Linked DNA regions of Homo sapiens: region 2 is linked to region 1. A link means that fine-mapping ties the variant in region 1 to the expression of a gene that starts in the linked region. Tissue or cell type: blood mononuclear cells. Region 1 holds a variant in brackets; the other region holds the start of a gene. All regions are shown on one strand. Distances are from middle to middle.

Region 1 (8,265 bases):
AAGTGACACAAACAAATGGAAAAACATCCCATGTTTATGGATTGGAAGAGTTTATATTGTTAATATGACTATGTTGCCCAAAGCAATCTACATATTCAATACAATTCCTATGAAAATACCAATGTCATTCACAGACTTAGTAAAAACAATTCTAAAATGTATTAATATATGAAACAAAAAAGCCCAAATAAATAATGTAATCCTGAGCAAAAAGAACAAAGCTAGAGGTATCACATTAAAAGTCTATAGTAACTGAAACAATATGTTATTAGTATAAAAATAGACATATAGATCAATGGAAGAGAATAGAGCACGCAAAAATAAAGCCACATATTTACAGCCAACCGATATTTGATAAAACTGACAAGAACTTACACTGGACAAAAGACACTCTCTTCAATAAATGCTGTTGGGAAAATTAAATAGCCACATGCAGAAGAATGAAACTGGATATTTATCTTTCACCATACACAAAAATCAACCAAGATAGATTAAAGACTTAAATGTAAGACCTGAAACTATAAAAGTACTAGAAGAAAATCTAAAGAAAACTCTCCTGGACATTGGTCTAGGCAAAGAATTTATGACTAATATCTCCAAAGCACAGGCAACAACAACAAAACAATAGAACAATGGAAATTAATTAAACTGAAAAGCTTTTGTACAAAGACATAATCAGTAATGAAGAGAGAACCTTTTGAATGGGAGAAAATATTTACAAAGTATCCAAGAATGGACTAATATTCAGAATATACAAGAAATTCAAACAAGTCAACAGGAAAAAATAAATCCCATTAAAAGGATGCAATGGACATGAAGAGACATTTCTCAAAAGTACAAATAACTAATAGATACATTAAAAAAACTCTACTAATCATTGGAGAAATGCAAATCAAAACCACAATTAGATAATATTTTACCCCAGTTAGAAAGCCTATTATTAAAAATACAAAAATAACGAATATTGGCCAGGATACAGGGTTCCCTTTGGGTATTTACCCAAAGGAAAATAAATCAACATATGGAGTGACACCTGCACTCCTATGTCTATTGAAGCACTATTCACAATAGCAAAGATATGGAATTAACCTAAGTGTTAATTGACATAATATTGACAATGACGTAATATTCAGTCATTAAAAAAATGTCATTTGCAATAACATGGATGGAACTGGAGGTCACTATCTTAAGTGAAATAAACCAGGCACAAAAAGACAAATATCTCATGTTCTCACTTGGATAGCTAGGATACACAGAGGGTAAGGACAGAATGTTGTGAAGTGAGACTAATGGACGAGTAGAGGCAGGTGAAGTCAAGCATAATAGGTCATAGTAGGATTTGGCTTTTGTTCTAAAAGCAGTGTAGCTCCACTAAAGTGACAGGTCATGTCTCATTATCAAATAACTATGGCATCATCAGTGACCTCTGGCTTCTCAGCGCTTCCACGGTTTTTATTGTCTGCATCAGGAATCAGTCATGTAATCAATTTCTACCTTGTATTATTCACGAGTTTATATCATTTTGATGGCAGCAGCAGCCCATCTGGAGTGGCCACTGCCATGATGTCAGCTGCAGTGGGGAAGTTGCAGCCAGGGCTGCTCACTCCATGGAGCCAGTGGGAGCTAGGAACAGGTGGAATCCCCGCCCCATTCCAAGTTGGAGTGGTGGGAGCCCCACCTTCCTGGGCGCAGCTGCAACTGCCCAGCCCCAGCTGCAAACCCAGCCATCTCTGCACTCCTGGGGACTCAGGAAGCCCCCCTCCCCAGGAAGGCTTGAAAGTGCCTGCTCCTGCTACCTGTCTTCTCCCCACTCCCAGTGCCCACTCCGATTTTGAAGCAAAGTTGTGGCTGAGCCCAGGCACTATCATGAGTCGGCCGGGTGTGTGTACACTCAGGACAAACTGACATGTCAACCCCCTGCCACCTTGGCCCACTCCGGACTTTGGGTGCCAACAAGCACAAGAGGGAGGCCAAGGGGGTGCTAAGGGTGACTTAACATGGGCCTTAAGGCACCCCTTGGCATGAACAGCCTGGGTGCCATGGGCATCATGGATGGCAGGTAAATGGCAGCAGGAGGCAGACAGGTTCCTGGGCAGAAAGAGTCAGGTCCTCAGTAAAACCCCACTTTTAGGCCAGGGATGGCCTGAGGCCTGGGGGCTGGTTTGCCAGCTCCACAGACCCGAGTGAGAACTTAAGAGTGCTTTTTCGGAGCCTGCCCATGGCCACCCATGGACCAATCAGCACGCATTTCCTACCTTCTGAAGCCAATAAAAACACCAGATTCAGGCAGACTTGGGCAGATGACAGGACAACCTGCCTGTGGAGAGGAGCTACTGACTGTGGGTCTCCTCTCTGCTGAGAGGTGGACACTCGTCAAGATGATCTGCCTGCGGACAGGAGCTACCTACTGCAGGTCTCCTCTGAGCTGTTCTGTCACTCAATAAAGCACCTTTTCACCTTGCTCACCCTCCACTTGTCCATATGCTTCATTCTTCCTGGACACAATACAAGAACTCAGGACCCACCAAATGGTAGGGCTAAAAGAGCTGTAACACAAACGGCTGAAACACGTCCCTTACTTGCCATGTTGGGGGTGACAAGAAGGAAAGGAGGGAGAAGGAGAGAAGACTTATGGCCCTTCAGAGAGCCCAGACCAATGGGCTCCCTGAAGGCTGTGACACCCTCTTCGGGATCTGTGGTTCCTGGCATCTCCAAGCTTAGGGACAACACTGCATTCCCCGGTGCCAGCCATGGAAGCTGCTTGCAGTACGCTTGGTCAAGCCAAAGCCTCTCAGGGAGTTGGCACCCATGCCAGTGCCTGGAGCTGCCCACCCCACCACAGCTGGTGTGCCTGGCTGTGCACTGTGGCTGGACCCCATGCTCACTCACTCACACACCCCACACACCCCTCACCACTTCGTGTCTGGCTTGCCCTTGGCAGGCCAGGGGATCCTGGCTGGTAGCACAAGCCAAGTGCAGCCTGCCAGGCCAAGTGGGTGGAACAAGCCCAGCATGCGTGAGCAAAACATGGGCAAAGGTGTCACCACCCACAGAGGTTTCTGGCCGGAAAAGCAATGCCCCAAGGCTCCTGTGAGGTTTTCATTTAAATTTCCAACATTGACATGGACTAAGAGTCAAGGGGAAAGGGAACCTCATTTATTGAGTACTTATTCAATTGAAAGCATTGTGTAGGAACTTTGAATATATCATCTTATTTAATCTTCA[T/C]AAAAGCCCATGAGATCAATATCTCCATATTGTTACCAGAAAGTGGTCCCAATTTAGACCCCAAGAGAGGGTTCTTGGATCTTGTGCAAGAAAGAATTCGGGGAGAGTCCATAGAGTAAAGTGAAACCAAGTTTATTAAGAAAATAAAGGAATAAAAACTGGTTACTCCACAGGCAGAGCAGCCCCAAGGGCTGCTGGTTGCCCATTTTATGGTTATTTCTTGGCTATATGCTAAACAAGGGGTGGATTATTCATGAGTTTTCAGGGAAAGGGATGGGCGATTCTGAGAACTGAGGGTTCCTTCCCTTTTTAGACCGTATGGGATAACTTACTTCCTGACGTTCCCATGGCATTTGTGAACTGTCATGGCACTGGTGGGAGTGTCTTCTACCATGCTAATGCATTATAATTAGCATATAACGAGCAGTGAGGACAACTACAGGTTACTCTTGTCACCATCTTGGTTTTGGTGGGTTTTGGCCAGCTTCTTTACTGTAACCTGTTTTATCAGCAACATCTTGTGCTGACCTCCTATGTTATCCTGTGACTTAGAGTGATCTGTAGCTTGTGCCTAACCTCCTGGGAATACAACCCAATAGGTCTCAGCCTAATTTTACCCAGCCCCTATTCAAGATGGAGTTTTTCTGGTTTAAATGCTTCTGACAGTATGACAAAAGAGGTCGACTCAAGAACAATCCCCAATCAACAACAGTCCAAGCTTACTGACCTCTAGTAAACTGTGAGTCTGGGTGCTTTTGCAATAAGATCACAAATTGCAGAAGTGTTCAAACACTGCATATATCACTGGTATGTCTTCTCCCAATTCTTAGAAGACTAGGTCTATTTCCTATTTAGTATAGCCTGATCCAAAAGGCAGTTTGCCCTTGTTAATCAGTTTTTTTTTTTTTTCAAATCTGCGGGGCTTAAGAAAAGTAGAGAAATGTTAATACTTGGTTTTTTAGGAAAATTCTATTATAAGGCACATTTTTGTGATCATGCCACTGCACTCCAGCCTGAGGAACAAAGTGAGACTCCTTCTTCCCCCTCATCACCCAAAAAAAGATTCTAGGAATCATTTTTCACAATAAAGTCATCAACAAATGTCCATTTGCAAGGAAAAATGGCTAGTGGCTGATTTTCAAGTGTTCTTTGGAAATATGATTTTAAACACTTCATAAGCTTAACAATAGAACAGCACTGGCCTGTCTGTTGTTAACCTTTACATAATAAAATTAATTAGGAATAATAACTCAACCCATGCAGAATTTGTCCATGATTTAAATGAAGAGAATGTTGTTAGCCCAGTTTATATCAGAAAATTAGCAATTTTACTTGGTAATGCGAATCTTCTGGTTATATTTGTTTGTGTGTTTGTTGGCTTGCTTGCCTTAAATTTATGATTTACTTAATGATGTCAAACTAAGTATGTGCTTTAGCTTAGGTTTACAACAAAATAATAGGCTAAATTCACAGAGCGCCATGGTGTCTCGAATTAGAAAATAATTTGCCTTTGCTTTTCTTGAAATAGAGGAAACAGTTTTGCTTTAAAGTACCAGTGCAGTGTTTTCTAAAAGAGGTCAAGCTGAAACTGGTGTTTAACCTGGAGAGGCTTCCGTGAATTTCTAATGGAGTTTTAGAAAGACTGTATTTCCTGATTTAATAATACATATGACTGCAGTGAAGGAGCATTTTAATATGACTCTGAATCTGAGTGCAACACACAGTCTTATGAGAGAGAAACAAGAGGGAGGGAAGGAAGGAAAAAAAGGAGGGAGGGAGAGAAAGGAAAGGAAAATAGGATATATTATTCAAATTTGTTGTTACAATACTATGTGAATGTGAAGTTAAGGATTTAAAGTAGCTAGCAGAAATATATATTCTGTAGGACATTATTTTTAGTCTGATGCCAATGATGCAATAATAATTATAGTCACTACCATTTACTGAGTTCTGACTAGGAGGTGGGCGCTGTGGTAGGCATCATTCATTATGCCAGCTGGTCCTCACCATACCCCAAGAAGTGGATATGAATTATACACACATTTTAAAGACAAAAAGCCTGCAGCTTAAGAGAGCTATGGAGCTTGAGGAAGGTGCCAGAACTAGAAATGGAAAGCAAAAGCCCTCTCAGGTCCAACTCCGGAGTTTAACACTCATTACATGTTCATCCATTTATCTTATTTGTTTTATGCTTTTCAGTTTTCATTTGTTATTCTTTTTGGGGAGAAGGTACACATTTAAAAGTGCTTACTGAAGAAAATAATCTTTTGTTTTAAACCCTAGGGCTCGCCAGACATTTTTTTTTTTTTTTTTTGAGAAGGAGTCTTGCTCTGTCACCCAGGCTGTGGAATGCAGTGGCACAATCTCGGCTCATGGCAACCTCCACCTCCTGGGTTCAAGTGATTCTCCTGCCTCAGCCTCCTAAGTAGCTGGGATTACAGGCATGTGCCACAACGCCTGGCTAATTTTTGTATTTTTAGTAGAGATGAGGTTTCACCATGTTGGTCAGGCTGGTCTCAAACTCCCGACCTCCTGATCCACCTGACTCGGCCTCCCAAAGTGCTGGGATTACAGGCGTGAGCCACTGCGCCCAGCCCCAAGACAAACTTCTAAGGGACCATATAATTTATTCAAATATATCTGTGAATATAGCAAGCATTCACATACACACACACACACGCACACACACACACACACACGCAGCATGTCTCTTCCTGCACATCCTTAAAAATCACATCAAACCCTGCAAAAGAAAAGTCATACATAATAATAAGAATCTGGATTTCATGTCTGTGTTATTTTACTTATCTATCTCACCTGCATCTCTCAGATTACTATTACATTTTAGCAAGTAAAATAATAGATAATAGGAGAGAATGTAAATCTGCTATATCCTAAGATATATACTTGTTACTCTTATGAAGGTATACTATACTCTTTAGAGCAAACTGTACTTGGTAAATCATCTTTTTGAGTTCCTCAAAATGTTGCTAATAAAATAAAATGTAAAGTTTGCAAGTCCATTTTCGTAAAAATTCCCAGTCTGCAATTTTATAAAACTAGCACCTAATTTAAAATCAGCCTTCAACTATGTGAACCTGGAGAGAATACATGCATTACCTGAAGGCCAAATCCCTGTATTCTACAATTCTTTGTAGGACTTTCTTAGCATGTAATTTTAGAGTATCCAAACTATTTCTTTCCTCCACCTACATCATCATTTTACACACAGCGAAATGTGGTCATTTTTTCTGCTTAAGTGGTACATACTACAGATCTTATGACAGAATGTGCTAAAGTGGACACACTTTTCATGTTCATAAAAGTGGGGAAGATGCCACTCTTGTTGTAACTTTTTAGTTTAAAAAAGAAAGACAATGCCAAAATTCTTCCAAAGAAGGACTGTAAAGAGAAAAGGGGAGAAGGGGACATATTCCCCCATGCCAGCAGTGGTAGTGAGGGAGCAGAGTTGGAACATAGCTTCAGACAGTGGTGATAGGAGGCAACAGGAAATGCCATTGCTCTACCCACATTTCTTTGGATTCTTTACCAACTCTTGCACTCATCCTCCCTGTGTACTATCCCCTACAACAGTCAGCACCTGTATCTCTTAATTTGCGAGGTGGCCTCAGACTGCTAGATCCCCTTTGAGAACTGATGTAAAGTTGGAATCTCCTGGATATTTATATCACTCCTGGGGAAGCCTTTAACTACAGATTAATCTGTAGCTACCCCTACTCCCTTCCCTCTATGGAGGAGGGATCTAAGGTGTGACCTTTGAATCTGCACTTCAAAACTGAGCCAAAGTTTTCTTAGCAGAACTTTGATACTATGCCCTTGCTTGGCCAAATTTTCTTTCCACTCCCATTTCTTCACACCCCAATTTTTCCAGCGAACACTAACTATGTTCTTTTCATATAAATTTTCATGTCAGTGTCTGCTTCTGAAGAAATAACATGGTGTTGAGTCTCTGCCAAGTAGGGGCTGCACTGGCTACTCTGCCTAAAGTAAGAGACTGAAATAATGGTCTTTTCAGTGGAAGAAGCCCCACTAGCCTAGGGAAACAGAAAGAATTTCTCTGAATGGAAATAAGAAAAAGAAAATGCTACCATGAGAAAGTGAGACCCATGCCTCCAAAACATGCACATATGAAATCAGAATTTACATGCTTGTCGAGAACAAGAATCCTCAAGCTAAGAAATTAACATTAAAAAACTTGTCTTGAGTGGGTAAGATGCAGATGGAAATTCAAAACTACCCTGCAAAATTTCTGCCATGCACAAGACAAGCAACTCCCATAGGAGGGAGGGTAGGGAGAGGATGTGGTGGATAATGACAGAAGCTCACAGTCCAAAAAATTACAGACCACACAAAGAAATGGTTTCACATCGATGAAGTCTCATTTCAACAACTGGATGATTCTATGATCTGAAAAAAGAAAAAACCTATATAATCAGTATGTTTAAAATGATTGAAGAAAGTAATATAGAATGCAAATCATAATGAAAGAAAATTCATCATAAAATAACAGACACTTAAAGAAGACTGTAGTATAACATCTATAAAGATTATGATGGCAGATTAAACACACGCCCAGAATTTATTCACTCCAGAAACGCTGCCAAAATTACAAGCCCCAAAAAACCTTTTAATCCACAAAGATGAAGAGAGCAGCAGGGGAGACAACAGTGACAGGTCTTTGAAACCTGAAAAGCAGATAACCAGTGTCAGTGACTTGTGAAACCTGTGAAAGATGAATAAAAATTGGCTGAAAAACTAATAACAAAATCCATTCCACCACAGAGTCTTCCAAAGATTCTGGAACTACCAACACCCAATTAACTCTAGACTTGTAATTTAGGGAAAAGTGACTCCATGAAAAAGAGTGAGAAAAGCTGTTTCTGAAGCAGCTAGATTTCTACTAGATTCCTTCTCCTTTCCCTTTCCCAGTTTGTTCTTCAGAACTATTAACTCTGCCCAAGAAATTTGAAGGACTTTTTCCTGGAAAGGATAAAAACAAAAAGTTTTAGGGACTGCTAA
Region 2 (8,000 bases), 320 kb after region 1:
CATCTGTGAAATGGGCATCTGACTGCCTAGTACCTTCCTCATAGGTTTGCTGTGAGAATTTGACAGCGTATGCATGTTGCAGTTAGCATGATGTCTCACATAGGCTGAGCATTGGATAAATTTCAGCTATTCTTACTAATTCTTGTGACTCTCAGCAAGCCACATAGAATCTCTGTGCCCACATTCTCACTCACTGAAGGAAGATTACATCAACCATACTAAATTAGTCAGCATAGGCTAACTGCTGAAACAAGGGACCCCTCAAATCTCAGTGCATTATTTCTCATTCACTTCATTGTCCAGTGAGGGTTGCTGGGATTGGAATGAGGTCCATACAGGCACTCAGAGGCCAAGTCACCTTCTATCTAGTGGCTCTGCCATATACCCGGGACCTGTATTATGTTGGCAGAGGACGAACAATAGCACAAAGGACTGGGTTTTATAGGGACCCAGCCTGGAAGTGGCATATATCAATTCTACCTCTATTCCATTGGCCAGAATTCAGTCACATGAGCTGCACCTAACCACAAGAAGTCAGTTTGGGAAATAATACGCAGCTATGTGTTCCAGAGGAAATGGAAACAAGATTTGGTGCAACACAGCAGACTCTGTCACACCTACCTAACCTCCTCAGAGGGTTGCTAATAAAAGCGCATGTGAACGCCAAGTGTGAAACTGCTATGGAAAGTGATAAACTAACATGAGCTACAGGTGATGCTGCTGCTATTGATTAAGCCAGGGAGTTTCTGTGCATCCTCCACATTGCTAAAACATACAGCAATTTGGGTATGAGAAGAAACCGAAATATAATCAGAAGGTCCTTCCTCCTGTAGGGGAGACTCTTTAACTAGTAAGGCTTTATTTCTCCACTTGTATCTTCAAAAATGGGCCACTCTGGGAGCGGTGACTCACGCCTGTAATCCCAGCACTTTGGGAAGCCGAAGGGGGTGGATCACAAGGTCAGGAGTTCGAGACCAGCCTGGCCAATATGGTGAAACCCCATCTCTACTAAAAATACAAAATTAGCCAGGCAAGGTGGCACATGCCTGTAATCTCAGCTACTAGGGAGGCTGAGACAGGAGAATTGCTTGAATCCAGGAGGCGGAGGTTGCAGTGAGCCAAGTTGCACCACTGCACTCCAGCCTGGGCGACAGAGCGAGAATCTGTCTCAAAAAAAAAAAAAAAAAAGGCCACTGCAGGTAAATAATCTCCTTTCTTTGCCCATTGGTCCAATCCACATGGGCGTGTGGTGAAACTGGAGGGAAAAAAAGGGAGCGAGCAGAATAAAAGAGCAGAAAGCTATTACTTTGAGGAGTGTAATTGTCAGAGCAGGCTGTCAGAGCAGCCTGAAGCAATCACTCAGTAGGGGCCAGCCTCCACAGCAGTAATTTATCACCACATGAAGATGTTGGGGAGTTAATCACAGCACTGACATGTGTCAGCTCCAGGCATTGGGCTCAGCATAAACTTCATGCTTAGAAAATGAAAATAATTAAGAGGGCACACATTTGAAATGTACCACTAAAAAGGGAAGGCAGTCATCTTAGGGTCAGGTGAATGCCATGTTTGTAATCCACTAAACCAACTGGAAGAGCCTGTGGAGGGCAAATGTGTCCAAGGGTACTTTGCTATTTGTACCTGATAGATGCCTTTCACACTGTTTTGAGTCTCTGCATGGCCTGTCATGAAAGAGAAAAGCAAACACAATTTGCACAGGCTTTGCTACATGAATATTAGTGCTTCAGGAATGCTCTAAGATCCTGCCAGCTGCGGCTCAGGAAGGGGTCCAGGCCAGATCTGACTCATCCTGCTGCCTTCCTCCTGGAAATGATCCCCTTTCTCACCCCACTCCTGCTGGCTGAGCCCAGGTCCTGTCTGTCCCATATTTCCTTTGATCCAAGGAAAACTAAAAGTGGTTACTAGCTCCCAAGCGGCCTTTGTTTATAAATGGGTTCCCACCTTAATATGTTTACTCAAAAAACTCGTCAAATAATTAGCTATAACAGAGCAATCAAACTGATCAAACAGTTCTTGGAGTAGTTCAAACCTTCAGAGAGTTATTTAATGACAGTTTTAAATAACTGAACTGGGGTCTTCCAGCATAGAGAAGTAGGGATTGTGGCAGAAACTGCGAGGGAGAATTTTTAAAGTGCTTAGAATAAAAATCTTTTCATTGAAAAAAAATGACAAGAATTGCCCACATAATTATGGCAATTTTTCCTTTCCTTTTGCAATGCAAATTCCTGGCAGAGTGTAAGAGAAACTGAGCTCCACTGTCCCAGTTTTTCAAACTAAGAAAATAAAATAATTTGCTACCTAAACTTTCAACTTCTACTTTTGAAAGCTAAATTTAAGTTTTAAGAATCGTACAACAAAAGAGACTACAGATAAACCTCATTACAATTTTTTAGTATTGAGCATTAGGTTATTTATTTTCCTTCTTCCTAAAGCTACTGTAGAAAGAAAATTCAAAGGACTAGTAAGAAAAATAGCTCAATTGATAACAAGTCTGGTTTGTCAATGACATGCTAATACCTGTAACAGTTACTAATTATCTCAGCAGTGTGTCTCAGTTTTTATATTTAATATATTCTTCATCATTCTTAAATTAATAAATAGCAACCAATTGTTTTCTCTTTTACAAGCTTCATATGGAAAGAAAATTGAAAAAAAAAATTTGTATTAGCAGAAAGTGAATATAAGGGACTTCCCAACCTCCCCTCCATATATTTACTGACAAGCAACTGACATGAGTGATAGCAAAGCAATGTGGTTAGTGAGGAATGGCGCAGAGTGTGCAGTTTCCTTTTTTCTAATGTTGATTTGTTTTCTGTGCTGACACAATCCTAGAGGTTACTGTTCAAAGGAAGCATCGACAACAGAAGTGATTAGAGTACTGATTAAAAGAAGATTTTTAAGAAAATGACCAATCACCATCAATCTTAATATTGGCTAACAAATGTGTATTTTTCTTTCTCATATTATTAAGTAAATAGTATAAACAGAATAATTCTTTATTAGTATATCCATATAGTGCCTTTTGCAAGTAAATATGATTCTGGATATTTTATGACCTGTAATTACTTGAAATCGGAAAGCCCTTTTAGTTTCTCTTATTACCCATGTGTTGCTGAGACTAACTGAAGAACCAGTTAGGAGGTTTGTTCGTTCACGAAATAACATTTAAGAAATGGGTACCTGCTTATCACATAAAAGAATCCAGTTATTTACTTACCCTGTGAGGAGACATAATATGTTAGAATGCTTGTACACTGCAGATGGGAAGAGGTTTTTCCAGGAATTTAAATTGTGCAATAAGGCCACACAATCTTACTTAAAAAAAATGGTGAAGGGGTTTTAATTACACCATGAAGTTTTACAATTTTTTAGGTTTTTAGTTCTGGTTTTAGAAAACAGAGTAGAAGGATTACAGAGAAAAACTTCACCATTAGACAAGAAGTCAAAATGATTCTAAGGGCCGCGCAAACAGGCTTTTCCAAGAATTAATCATGAGGTGGTGCTTGGAGAATTCCTTTACTCCAGTGACTTTGAAACCCCCTTCTCACTCTCCACTAGTCTTTCAAAGGATTCATGGTGAATTGGGTCTAACGAGTATAACACGGCCGGCCGAAGGCATGAAGCTCACGCTACCCTTTCAGGGCGGAGAAGTTCCCAGGAGGAAGAATGGAGAAAAAGATCGCAGTTAGGCAGTCCTCCCAACCTCACCAAGGCTCCACCTCTCTCCAAAGCCGCAAGGCTCTGCCACCTGCGCCGGGAGAGGCTGCAATCACTGTCTCCTCCTCTTTCTTTCTCTTTTTTTTTTTTCTTTTTTGCCTGGGGTGCCCGACCAAGCGCAGCCCGCAGTCTGGGCACTGCCAACTGACTCCAACTCCTTTTATGGTGAGAGGATGGATTCTTCGTTATTTCCCCGCCCAATCTGGTACCCACCCACCCACCCACCTACCACGTCCGCTGGGCGCACCCAAGTCTAACCCCGGGGCGCACGCGCTAGCGCAGACACCGTATTTCTTCTCCTTTCTCGGCCAACCCTAGGTAGAATCCTAAAACAACTGCCCTCTCTTCCACGATCTAGATGTTGCGGCCCGCGGACAGGAGGTTCAAGAAATAGTACACTCCGAGCGGCAGGCAGCGAGGCGGAAACGGTCGCCGGTTTCAGTGGTGGCCCCACTGGAAGCCGAGTTCAGGAGCGGCTAAGCGGTCGCCGGGGAAAGCACCGGGGCTTCCCAGGGTCCCCTCCGAGTTCCCACTCCGCACCTCCGAGGGCGTGAAAACCACGGGAGCCGCCCCACCCCGCGCGCCCAGCCCCGCCCCAGCCCAGACACCGCCCCCCGCCAGTCTTCCCTGCGGCGCCCAGGGAGGACGCGCTCCGCCCCCTTCCAATCCGGCCAATGGGCGCCCGGGCAGCGCGCGGTTTGCCTCCGCCTCCGCCAGGGAAACTTGGAGGAGGAGAAAAGTTTGTACAGAGGGTGGAAAGGCGAGAGCGGAGCTCCAAGCCCGGCAGCCCGAGAGGAAGATGAACAGCCCCAGGCCAGAGCCTCTGGCAGAGTGGACCCCGAGCCGCCCCCAGGTAGCCAGGAGCGGCCTCAGCGGCAGCCGCAAACTCCAGTAGCCGCCCGTGCTGCCCGTGGCTGGGGCGGAGGGCAGCCAGAGCTGGGGACCAAGGCTCCGCGCCACCTGCGCGCACAGCCTCACACCTGAACGCTGTCCTCCCGCAGACGAGACCGGCGGGCACTGCAAAGCTGGGACTCGTCTTTGAAGGAAAAAAAATAGCGAGTAAGAAATCCAGCACCATTCTTCACTGACCCATCCCGCTGCACCTCTTGTTTCCCAAGTTTTTGAAAGCTGGCAACTCTGACCTCGGTGTCCAAAAATCGACAGCCACTGAGACCGGCTTTGAGAAGCCGAAGATTTGGCAGTTTCCAGACTGAGCAGGACAAGGTGAAAGCAGGTTGGAGGCGGGTCCAGGACATCTGAGGGCTGACCCTGGGGGCTCGTGAGGCTGCCACCGCTGCTGCCGCTACAGGTGAGATGGCGTTGGGCTGACGTTGGGGTCAACGGGTAGAGAACGCAGGGATGCGGCCCTCGCCGAAGAGAGCCAAGAAGGGAAGAGCGCGCTCTCCAAATTGCTTTTGTAACTTGTTTTCAGTGAGCATTTTATTGATTCAGAATCTATCGAGAATAGCACTAGCGAGCTACTTTTCCCTTGAGATGGGTCTTATTCATCTTGGCAATGGAGTGAGTTGGATTGTGGGGAGGAAGAGGAATGGGAAAATCAGTTTATAAATATTAATGTCAGCAAGAGTGTGCTGTTGGCAGGACGTATCGCGAGCCTGGAGATTTTGGTGGCCGCAGTTGGTAAGTGGCTACAATCCAGAAAGTAGGATCGAGTTGCTCCCCTTGTCTTATCAGTGTATCGTTTCTCGGGCGCGGGTCTAACACCTTACAAGTGGTAATTTCCGCTCACGGCAGCTTTGTCTCTCTTCTACCATCCCCAGACCCAGCCTTGCACTCCAAGGCTGCGCACCGCCAGCCACTATCATGTCCACTCCCGGGGTCAATTCGTCCGCCTCCTTGAGCCCCGACCGGCTGAACAGCCCAGTGACCATCCCGGCGGTGATGTTCATCTTCGGGGTGGTGGGCAACCTGGTGGCCATCGTGGTGCTGTGCAAGTCGCGCAAGGAGCAGAAGGAGACGACCTTCTACACGCTGGTATGTGGGCTGGCTGTCACCGACCTGTTGGGCACTTTGTTGGTGAGCCCGGTGACCATCGCCACGTACATGAAGGGCCAATGGCCCGGGGGCCAGCCGCTGTGCGAGTACAGCACCTTCATTCTGCTCTTCTTCAGCCTGTCCGGCCTCAGCATCATCTGCGCCATGAGTGTCGAGCGCTACCTGGCCATCAACCATGCCTATTTCTACAGCCACTACGTGGACAAGCGATTGGCGGGCCTCACGCTCTTTGCAGTCTATGCGTCCAACGTGCTCTTTTGCGCGCTGCCCAACATGGGTCTCGGTAGCTCGCGGCTGCAGTACCCAGACACCTGGTGCTTCATCGACTGGACCACCAACGTGACGGCGCACGCCGCCTACTCCTACATGTACGCGGGCTTCAGCTCCTTCCTCATTCTCGCCACCGTCCTCTGCAACGTGCTTGTGTGCGGCGCGCTGCTCCGCATGCACCGCCAGTTCATGCGCCGCACCTCGCTGGGCACCGAGCAGCACCACGCGGCCGCGGCCGCCTCGGTTGCCTCCCGGGGCCACCCCGCTGCCTCCCCAGCCTTGCCGCGCCTCAGCGACTTTCGGCGCCGCCGGAGCTTCCGCCGCATCGCGGGCGCCGAGATCCAGATGGTCATCTTACTCATTGCCACCTCCCTGGTGGTGCTCATCTGCTCCATCCCGCTCGTGGTGAGTGACCGGGGCTGGGGCCCTACTCGGCCTTTTTCTCGCATCCACCTCCCGCGTCCATTCCCCGCTCCCTGCTTTCCCTCTGAGTCCTTGGCAGTGAACGTGTCGCCTTTAGGTCGGGGCTGGGATTCCCACACTGTTTCTCAGAGCAGGCCCAACCCTCTTTGAAGTCCCAACCCTAACGAGATTTAGCAGGTGCTTTGCCCCTACATCCCCCAGTTTATGTTCCCGGAAGCCTGGGTTTCTTTCTCCACCGAGACAGCCCTTACCCCTTGCTGCCTGACACTGGCCGAGTCTTCCAAGAAAACCCCCCGCCCCCTCTGTTAGACGTGGAGGGGAGCCTGCTGTAGTGTGACTTAGCCCATTCCTCCGTACTGTGAACTGTGAACTGCAAAACCTGAAATGTCAGGGATGGTGATCTGTTCGTTGTAAACCATTTTTAAGGAAAGTGGGGTTTTTGGTGTTTTGATGTATGCAAGGTTTCTTGAATTTCTTCCCCCGTGGATTGCGTAGAATTTTAAAGCTAGAAGAGATATCAAGAGGTGTTTTAGTCTAACTCCCTCACTTCACTGAGGGAGTGAATGATACGCTTAAAATAATCCAGCCGAACCTACACAGTCAAGCTAGGCTCCCTGCTCTTTACCATGGTGTGCCCTGGGAGGGCAGCTTAAAGCACACAAATTCTAATTCATATACAGGGCAGGGTCCAGACTCAGTTTCTTTCATTCTGTCTAGACCAGGAAAGCAAAGTTTCTCAGGGTGACTAATTATGGACAGGCTGATATACATAGGGTATGGGATTTGAATTCTCGACAACTGTGCGAGGTACAGTACCATTTTAGAGAAACCGAGGTTTAGAGATGGCTGTCTTTGTTTCTTCAAGCCAAAGCTCTACAGCTTGTAATGGACCTTAGGCCGTCTGAGGCCAGACCCAGCTCATGTGTTATTACATCACGTCTCCCTCGTAGAACATTTCTCATTTTGGCGTTTGTAAAGCGTGGGTTGGAGTTTTGGTACACTTCATTTTTAGTTCATCTTTTAAGAATTGCCTTTGGATTAACTTTTAAAATATGATAAACAGAAAGGCTCAAACCCTACCTAGTTTTCTACTTTGCCTGTGGCTAAAATGGAATGCACCAGAAGCAGATGGGCAGAATAATGCAATACTTTATCTAGAGTTTCTCTTGAAAGCAACTAGTTATGAGTTCTTCCATCTTCCAAAACACTGCATTCCTGGAAATTCTAAACTACCAACTCAAAAAGAGATAACTGCTTTTTCTTATGCTTGTTGGGAACAAGAGAATATAAAATGTAATGGGCTATTATTCCTTCCTTTTCCTTATTGATACTGTCCAGGGATCTTTGGTGTAAAAATATATCTTTGATAAAAGTGACTGTAAATGGAAGGAACTTAGAGGGGGCTCAGAGCCAGAATACAGTAGGTTCTTACCAATTTGTATAAACAGAAGTAAATATAATAGGCCATAAGAGCCTTTAAGCCATTCCAGGACCCAATATAATTTACAGAGTTAAGTCACACTTGAGCCACATAAATATATTTTACTGTCTGTAAT

What was found. PIP is the estimated chance that this variant, and not a neighbour inherited with it, causes the effect.
Region 2: PTGER4 starts here. The variant in region 1 is fine-mapped to the expression of PTGER4 in blood mononuclear cells (TOPMed, PIP above 0.99).

Annotation. Positions count from the first base shown.
Region 1 is chr5:40,352,509-40,360,773 of GRCh38, forward strand. No RefSeq gene overlaps it. Among named protein-coding and RNA genes, the nearest start is that of LINC00604, 120 kb to the left of the region's middle. The variant T/C (reference allele first, on the strand shown) is at 3,226.
Region 2 is chr5:40,675,435-40,683,434 of GRCh38, forward strand. It overlaps PTGER4 (prostaglandin E receptor 4), which reads left to right and starts at 4,481. Exons shown (of 3, transcript NM_000958.3): 1 at 4,481-5,044; 2 at 5,517-6,426. The coding sequence starts at 5,560. RefSeq lists a silencer at 4,144-4,363 and an enhancer at 5,499-6,026.